Regions from separate parts of the Homo sapiens genome. Here regions 2 and 3 are each linked to region 1. The links come from fine-mapping of genetic effects on gene expression. A gene starts in region 1. Each other region holds a variant in brackets. All regions are shown on one strand. Distances are from middle to middle.

Region 1 (2,759 bases):
TTTTTCCTTTAAAAATTCACTCGTGGCCGGGCGCGGTGGCTCACGCCTCTAATCCCAGCACTTTGGCAGGTCGAGGCCAGGAGTTCGAGACCAGCCTGGCCAACATGGTGAAACCCCGACTCTACTAAAAATACAAAAATTAGCTGGGCGTGGTGGCAGGCGCCTGTAATCCCAGCTACTTCGGAGGCTGAGGCAGGAGGATGGCTTGAATCTGGGAGGCGGAGGTTGCAGTGAGCCGAGACCGCGCCATTGCACTCCAGCCTGGGCAACAACTGCGAAACTCCGTCTCAGGAAAAAAAAAAAAAAAAAAAAAAAAAAAACCATAAAGAAAGAAAAAAATTCACTCGTAGCTGCTACAAGAAGTGTAATGGCTCATGCCTGTGATCCCAGTGCTTTGGGAGACAGAGGTGGGAGGATCGATACCTTTAAGCCTGGAGCTTCACAAGACAAAGAACTCAGTTGAAACTGCTGCTTATCGGATCACATATTAAGGGCAACTTGAATTGATGATCCCAGGTTGCCCTCATCAAACTTGGCCCAAATAAATTCTCCACTTATATTAACTTTGCCTCAGTTTTTCCTTTAGGTCGACAGTTATTTCTAAAGTTCTACAGATGGGTTTACCTTGTATTAAAATAAGGTGTGAGAAGGGCAAATGAAGCCAGAGGCTCCCAGCACAATCTTGCAACCTTCAGAGACTTCCAAAGGATCAGCATTAACTCCAATATTTAGCAGGAGTGCAGCTCTTCGAGATTCACAAAGTGTTAATCTGTTGCCTAGAATTCCAGAGAGTTGGAGGCGCCCAGTGTGAACTGTGTTCCGCCTAAAAGAAAAAGCGACCAGCCTAAGATCATGAGCGCAAGGGAGAAGCTTGAAGCCATGCGCTCTCAAGTACGCGTTTCCCGCTGCCCAGGTCTGCGGGCCAAGCAGCCAGCCACGCTGGCCCTCGTCATGCACGCGATCAGCTAGGCTCCCGCGCCACGTGGCACTGAGAAGGCGTCCACCGAGCGCCAGGGAGAAGGAGGCGGAGCCCGGCCTCAACCTCGCCCGTGTCCTCATGGGGGTTGTAGTTTTCCTCGCGGGGGTAGAGGGCACGAACTCCCCGGCTTTTGCCCGGTAAATAGCATCTCCTTCGTACGAGTCATTCAAATAATAGATGCAGCCTAGGTAGCTTCAAGAGAAGTTGGGAAGGGGAAGGGGGAAAGCAAGGAAGGCAAACCTAATAATTATGGGCGGGGCAGAGAACGGTTCGCACCCACTACGCATGCGCACATCAGGCGCGGCAGGTGGGCGGGGACGGAAAGGCGGTGACTAGAGCTGTGTTGTCCCCGGAAGTGCCTTCCCTCCCGGGTCTGCGCGGACGCGGCCTCCTTACCTCATTTGTCCTCGCCCCTCCCCGTCCCTCTACGCGTTTTGGTTCCCGGTTGGTGCTTCCTGTTCGCAGCTGCGGCAGTGAGTATGTGTGTGACGGACCCCCGCCGCCCGCGGCTCGGGACCCCTGCCTACCCTCCTTCTTGCCCGCCGGGCTGTGGAACTAGCGCGTGCCCCCTCGCCGGCCTCGACGTCTCCCGTCCGCCCCTCACTCGTGGCAGGGCGCAGCTCCTGGTCCGTCACCTGCGCGCCGCCCCACGCGGCCGGGCTGCGGGTCTAGGGGGTCCGCGTCTCCCTGGCTTTCCAAGGGCTAATGCCGTGATTCTAGAGCGGCTGGGCGTCTAGGGCCTCGGTGAGGGTGGCGTGTCTGCCCTTTTTATTTCCCCGCAAGGCCCCCAGTCTTCTAGGGAAGCCAGTCAGTGAAGCGCGGAGGTCCCGGCGCGCCGAGAGAGAGTCCAGTCTTTGAGGACCGAGTAGTCCTGGGCCACCTCCCGCCTCTGCTGTCAGAAGCAGCAGCTGCAGCAGTAGAATCCAAAATTTCGGGAGCTGTGACCCTTTCCTCATGTAAAACGAGTAGACTTGGACTGTGTTTACTAAGGCGCCCTTTATCCCTCCCATCCTGTGAGCGGACAGTTGCCTTCAACTTTTGGGAAGAGCTGCTGGTTCGGTGGAAAAGCTGTGGCTGGGAATCAGGAGGCCTGGGTTCTAGCCGTGGCTCCCCCACGGATTCGCTGGCGATTCCAGAAAGCTCTTATTGAAGCTGAATTTAAGATTATTTCAGATTGCACAGTTGAATTACGGGCTGCATTAGTAGGGCCTTTTTAGCTCAGTGAATAAGTTTCTCTGAGCTCCTTTCTCCAACTATAAAACGAGAGCGTTCAATTTGATGACTTTTCAGGTCCCCTCAGAAGCTCTTGACTTTGTGGTTTTCTTTTTCTTTTTAAAATTTTTTCTAGGACCGTTAGAGAAATGACTTCGTGTTTGAATAGTTAGGCTGTCGCATACAAAGACTTTTAAATGGATTGTGTGTATACTTAGGAAAGCGTTATGCTTTCAGGAGAATCTGAGCATGGGGAATAAAGTCAGGAAGGATCGCAAGTGAGGATTATATTAATATGATAATTAGCACGGTAAGAGACTGCATGACCGAAGGAAAAGGGCTAAGGGAAAGGTGAAGGAAATGTTTCCGGATAGGATTAGTTCTCGTAAAAATCATATATATATCCCAAGAAGAGCTGGGACTTAAGTGACTAAATTTAGCTTATTTTTTTTCCCCCACTGAAATACTGTGCTCTGTTTGTCTTTTGTGACTTTTGTTTTACACATTTGGATTCTCCATCCCAATCAGATTTGATTCAGAGTGGCCATCGCATTTGAAAAATGGACAG
Region 2 (2,759 bases), 180 kb after region 1:
GTAAAGCAGCCTCATGGTTTTCTTAGAAAAGTTTTTTATTTAAAAATATATCTCTAGACACTTACTCCTGGTAGGCCTGGGAAAATGTAGATTACTTCATGTCTCTTCAAAAGCCTTTCAAAGAAACAAGTCAAGCTTGATTTGTGTTTTTGAGATAGAGGAAAGTAGTAAGGTAGGAGGACAGAGGAAATCTTAGCTTTAAAGGGAGAAAAAGATCTTTCAGTCCTTTTGTCAACACTTTAGTTTCTGCATTAGTCATAGGTCCCTTCCCCCTTGGCCATGGGTGGACCAAAGGAATAGCAGCCATTTGCACGTTTGTGAAAGGACAGTGGAAAGAAAAGAAAATAGCTGATACAAGAAAATGTGGGAGATTATTTCCCCCACTAGGTTTTTACAGTTGTATTTTTAGATTAATCAGTGGTTTCTGGATATTTGGCCTCCTTTTTTTTCTTTTATTTTGCTGTTTTTGATGTTATAAAATACAGTGCTAAGAACCTAACCCTATTAGTGAGATATTATTCAGAGTCTAATTTTTTTATTGTTATAATGAAAGTCATGTAGAATGCAAAGCTAGTGGACACAGTTAATACTCATATTTGGTAGAAATACTTTTCCTCTACCAAGCTGAGTTCAAATTGTGGGCCTGCAAGTTAACTGATACTGGACAGGTTAACTGGAGAAAAGATAAGGTTTATTCACACTTGAAGGAGCACTCAATATCAGTAACTCTGAAGAAGAGTTTAGAGGGTTATAGAAGTAAGGGGTTATGCCTCTTGCTGTGGCACACCACAGATGCCAGCACTTTGGGAGGCTGAAGTGGGTGGATCTCTTGAGCTCAGGAGTTTGAGACCAGCCTGGGTGACATGGTGAAACCCTGTCTCTACCAAAAAAATTATAAAAATTAGCCTAGCGTGGTGGCAAGTTCCTGTAGTCCCAGCTACTCAGGAGGCTGATGTGGGAGGATTGCTTAAGCCTGGGAGGCGGAGGTTGCAGTGAGCCAAAATGGTACCACTGTACTCCAGTCTTGGCAACAGAGCAAGACCCTGTCTCCAAAAAAAACAAGAAGTAAGGGGCTATATACCAACTTAACAAGAGGGGGTAGCTTAGGGAGTCAAAGGACAGAAAGATCTCATTTACACAATTTTTTTGTTATGTCTCAGTGCCCAGTGTCAGTCATCTCCCTCCTGTGGATCCTCCTGGAGGTGTGAGAGGGTTGTGACAGCTGCCTCAGTAAAGCTCTGCTTTAGTCAGATAAAAGAAGTTAAGATTTCATTCTGCATCTGCTGTTGTATTTTTGGGCCCTTCACTGATTTTTTTTTGTTTTAATATTTGTATGTAGTCTGATGCTTTTCAATGTATTTTCACATACCTCATTTTATTCTCACAGGACTTTTTAGGCAGACAGGGAAAATACTATTATCCCATTTCACAGGTCAGAAAACTGAGACTCAGAGAGGTTAAGTATTTGTCCAGGGCCACATAATTAATAACAGAGCCAAAATAGGAATTTCAGGTATTCAACATTTCTCAGTGTACCTTTGGGGTCCAATTTGAGTACTCATAAATTGTGTAATCTATTGTCAATCTATAAGTCCTTTAAAAGTGCCA[C/T]GGTTAAGTAATAATTTATTTGTTTTGTAGGAGAAGATGGTATAAACTGGTCCATCAGTGACAAAGACATTGAGGTAAAATCAAATTGTTTTTAAAATTCAGAATAATAATTTCCTTTGCTTCATAGTTTATTATGATAACTTTTGGAACATTAATAAGTTTAAGTGGCTTATAAGAAAACATTTGATTTTAGCATATGAGTGATTTAACTCTTCAGAAACTTGGTTCAGCCTTGAGTTTTGTCAGTGAGTTAATAGCTGTAATCATCCAGTCCCCTTTCCCTTTCTGTTTCTCTCCTGCGGTGAGTCCTCTCAGCCCATATGGCCTGGTACCACTAAAAAGATCAACACCGGAAATAACTGCTTCTTCAGTGTAAGGAAATGGTTAGTCTATTTTTAGGATGTGGCAGGTGTTTGTCTTTGTCGATTATTAGCCTTAATTGTGGCAGATGCTACAAAAAGAGAATAATTTTATAACTTGGTTTTGGGAGATAGCTAGATTGTACTTACATGTGGTCCACTTGGCCAGTTCAGCAAAATAACAAATAAAAGATGAAAACTTTTTTAAAGATGGAATTCTACCAAACAAGCTAAAGCATGGTTGGGATTTACAGTTCCTCTTTAGATATTCCATATGATATGCATTGTTGGTACTCTCTTACAAGATCCTAGATTTAGATTAGAATATGGGACAGTTAGAATTGGGTCACTCTGTAGGCAGAATGGATCTTAAAAGGATTCCAGTGGAAAGAAATTATCTCATTCCTTTATTTCTATAAAGGAAGACTGGATTATCAGTCTTTTATTATCATCCAGTCTTGTAGGCAGTAACCCTGTGCTGTTCAAAAGAATGGATATATTGGGTAGCTGTACTAACTTTACAAAAGACAAAGTCATAAAAACACCATTCCCTAACTCAAAATTTAAGTAGCCCTCCCATTCAGAAAAACATGGTGTACATTCAGTTATAGAAATCAGCAGTGGCTGGCCGGGCGTGGTGGCTCACACCTGTAATCCCAACACTTTGGGAGGCTGAGGTGGGTGGATCACCTGAGGTCAGGAGTTCGAAATCAGACTGGGCAACATGGCGAAACTCCTTCTCTACTGAAAATACAAAAATTAGCCAGGTGTGGTGGCGGGCGCCTGTAGTCC
Region 3 (2,759 bases), 64 kb after region 1:
GCCTGGTGCAGAAATCCTTTTCCTTCAGTTATATTTTAGAACCACTGTGTGAGTACATTACTTTTTAGGTTTTGGGCCTCATGGACATTCTTAGCAACTTGTTTTCACAGCCCTTTCTTTGATGTTCATTTGAACCATAGCGTTGTTGATATTCAGAGTATTTTGACCTACAAACATAAACATTTTATATGGTTCAAACTAACAGTTAATTTGCTTCAGTTTACCAGGCATGGATGAGTACAGTTTCAATGCTAATAGCAAATATTTTACTTATTTTACTTTCCTGAGCACTTTACATGTTTTCACTGTTTTCCTCCTCACATCAACAACCCCAATGAATTTTATCTCTCATTTATAAATAAAGAAATAGGTGTAAAGAGATAAAGTAATATGCCCAAGTAAGTGGGAAACTCAGGATTTGAACCCAACTCCTCTTGCTCCAGAGTCTACACGCTGAACAACAATGCTATTCCGCCCTCTACCCTTGATCTAGTCCCCTCTTGGCCATCTGGTAGTTTTGTAAATTCAAGCATAGCTCCTTCTATGGCCTTGAGCCCCTCCTTTCCCTGCACAGTAGAGAGGGGTTGGACTTTTATTGGATTGTGTTTGTATTGTAATTGTGTGTTTTTCCAGATGTGTTTTCTAGCCACAGGAAGAGATACTCAAATAAGTCTTTCAACAGTATCTATTATGCTGACATTCACACTTGTTTGTGTTATTTTGTACGTTTTGGAAGCCTTCTGTAGTTAAGTATTAGTTGAGCTAATTCCTTACTGTTTTTGTGTCATACTTTGTTATGGAGCAACGTAATATGTGTATGTTGTTAACTGAATCGATAGAAATCTAAGAATCAACTTGGTCTATATCATCTGATGATTCAGGGGCTGGTTTGGATCATTGATAAAGTAAATTATTCCCTGTTTTACTTAACTCCTTAGTGGCAGTTTTCTAGATTCCCATTATTGGCTTGCATCAAAAAAAAAAAAAAAAAGGCATTTAAAAAGTTATGCCAGAGCTGGGAGAGCAAGAGGTGCTCTATGTTTTACTGATGGGGCCTGGCAGGATCCTATTCCTGCTCTCCTGATCTCTTATCCTGAATCCCCTGACACCTCTATTTCTGGAATTTTTCTCTTTTGTACTTGGTATCAGTAAGGAAATACATAGTACGAATACCCTGAGAGAGATTTCCAGCTTTATTTATTGATCTGACTGTCTTTCAGCTGATAAAATGCTATTTTATTACCCAAGTTTTAACCTCTGTCTGGTGA[T/TTTG]TTGTTGTTGTTGTTGTTGTTGTTGTTGTTGTTGAAGTTCAGGCTGCATGTGGGATAGGTTTGCTCAGGCATACTTCTTAGGAAGTAGTCACTTGCATGACTGTTTTTGGGATAACTCTTTGAGTATTTGGAGAGGTCTATTGTAACTTCTGAAAGGCATTGTTTTTACGTATGAATGTTCTAAAATTCATTCTAAATGGTCATGAAAAGAAAAGGATTCACATTTTAGAATGGCAATAGTCCCTGAGGACTATTATGTCTTTTAGATTTCCTGTGGGTTTCTAGGAATGTTAGTGTAACTTAGATTTCCACCTACCTGATTTCTGGATGTGCCTATTGGAACTTGCTGAGATCTTTTTTTTTCCTTAACATGTTGTCCCCTTGACCCGTACTTCGAAACTAAACATATTATTTTATTTGCTTACACTTCAGGAGGCAATTGGCAGACACCAGGCCAACAGTCTCTAGAGGTCGTGGGTGCCATCTACAAGTAGTCATGGTTTTTTATTGTATTTTAAAGTCCGCAAAAGATCTCTTGCTATGTTAGGTACACATACTATAGGTGATCACCTCCTATCCCTTAGGAGTTGTGATCATCTACCATCATTTGGACACTCATTTAGGCAGTCTTCCTGGGTGTTCCATTTGATCTGGTGTTAAATGATAAGGTGAATATCAGGTTACAATTTAGAGCCTTTAAATAAATAAGATGATGTATTATTTTGCATATAAATGTACACTGTTCTTGTTTGCTACTTAAAGGAATGTATTAGTTTCTGAGGGCTGCTGTAACAAATTACCATAAACTCAATGGCTTAAAACAGCAGAAATTTCTTCTCTCAAGAGTTCTGGAGGCCAGAAGTCTGTTGGCAAGCTTGGTTCCTTGTAGAGCTCTGAGGGAGGCCTGTCTGTGCCTCTTTTCTGGTGTCTGGTGTGGCTGGTAATCTTAGGCATTCCTTGGCTTGTGATTGCATCACTCCAGTCTTTACCTCTGTCTTCAGGTGGCTTTGGTCTCAAATTTTTTTCTTCTTTTTCTTCTATGGACACCTGTCATTGGTTTCAGGGTCCACTCTAAATTCAGGATAATCTCACCTCAAGATCCTTAATTATATCTAGAGGGACCCTGTTTCCAAATAAGGTCACATTCAGAAGTTCTTGGGGTTAGAATTTGGATATGTTTTTGTGGGAGGGGACACTATTTGATGCACTATCAGGAATATCTGTTCATTCATGCATTTTATTTATTTATTTATTTATTTATTTTTACAATTTCAGCCAATTTGCTAAGCATCTTACATTATACAGTACATATGTTATACTTTTTTTCTGGGACATAATATTTTGGAGATTGTATTATTTCCCATCTCATTATTCAGTAAACCTGAACTCTCACACTGGGATTTTGTGGGGTTGGGGGTGTGTGGAAAATCTGTTTTATTAAACTTAGTTTGCTATAATTTTTTCAGATTATTAAAAACATGTTCTAAACAT

Direction of the effects. Alleles are on the strand shown, and positions count from the first base shown. SD is a standard deviation of normalised expression in the study named. Not every link is listed here.
With allele TTTG in place of T in region 3, the expression in prefrontal cortex of the gene that starts at base 1,403 in region 1 is lower (small effect, 0.39 SD a copy in CommonMind).

Evidence for each region. PIP is the estimated chance that this variant, and not a neighbour inherited with it, causes the effect.
Region 2: its variant is the best candidate, but not a certain one, in a credible set for the expression of ZCCHC7 in tibial artery (GTEx, PIP 0.65).
Region 3: its variant is the best candidate, but not a certain one, in a credible set for the expression of ZCCHC7 in prefrontal cortex (CommonMind, PIP 0.76).

What each region holds. Positions count from the first base shown.
Region 1 is chr9:37,119,172-37,121,930 of GRCh38, forward strand. It overlaps ZCCHC7 (zinc finger CCHC-type containing 7), which reads left to right and starts at 1,403. Exons shown (of 9, transcript NM_032226.3): 1 at 1,403-1,452. It overlaps LOC105376034 (a long non-coding RNA gene), which reads right to left and starts at 1,229. Exons shown (of 3, transcript NR_188580.1): 1 at 625-1,229. RefSeq lists an enhancer at 1,065-1,144.
Region 2 is chr9:37,300,550-37,303,308 of GRCh38, forward strand. It overlaps ZCCHC7 (zinc finger CCHC-type containing 7), which reads left to right. Exons shown (of 9, transcript NM_032226.3): 3 at 1,639-1,682. Among named protein-coding and RNA genes, the nearest start is that of LINC01627, 93 kb to the right of the region's middle. RefSeq lists an enhancer at 1,943-1,992. The variant C/T (reference allele first, on the strand shown) is at 1,609.
Region 3 is chr9:37,183,419-37,186,177 of GRCh38, forward strand. All of the region lies in intron 2 of ZCCHC7 (zinc finger CCHC-type containing 7), which reads left to right. All of the region lies in intron 1 of LOC105376033 (a long non-coding RNA gene), which reads left to right. Among named protein-coding and RNA genes, the nearest start is that of ZCCHC7, 64 kb to the left of the region's middle. RefSeq lists an enhancer at 1,156-1,730. The variant T/TTTG (reference allele first, on the strand shown) is at 1,269.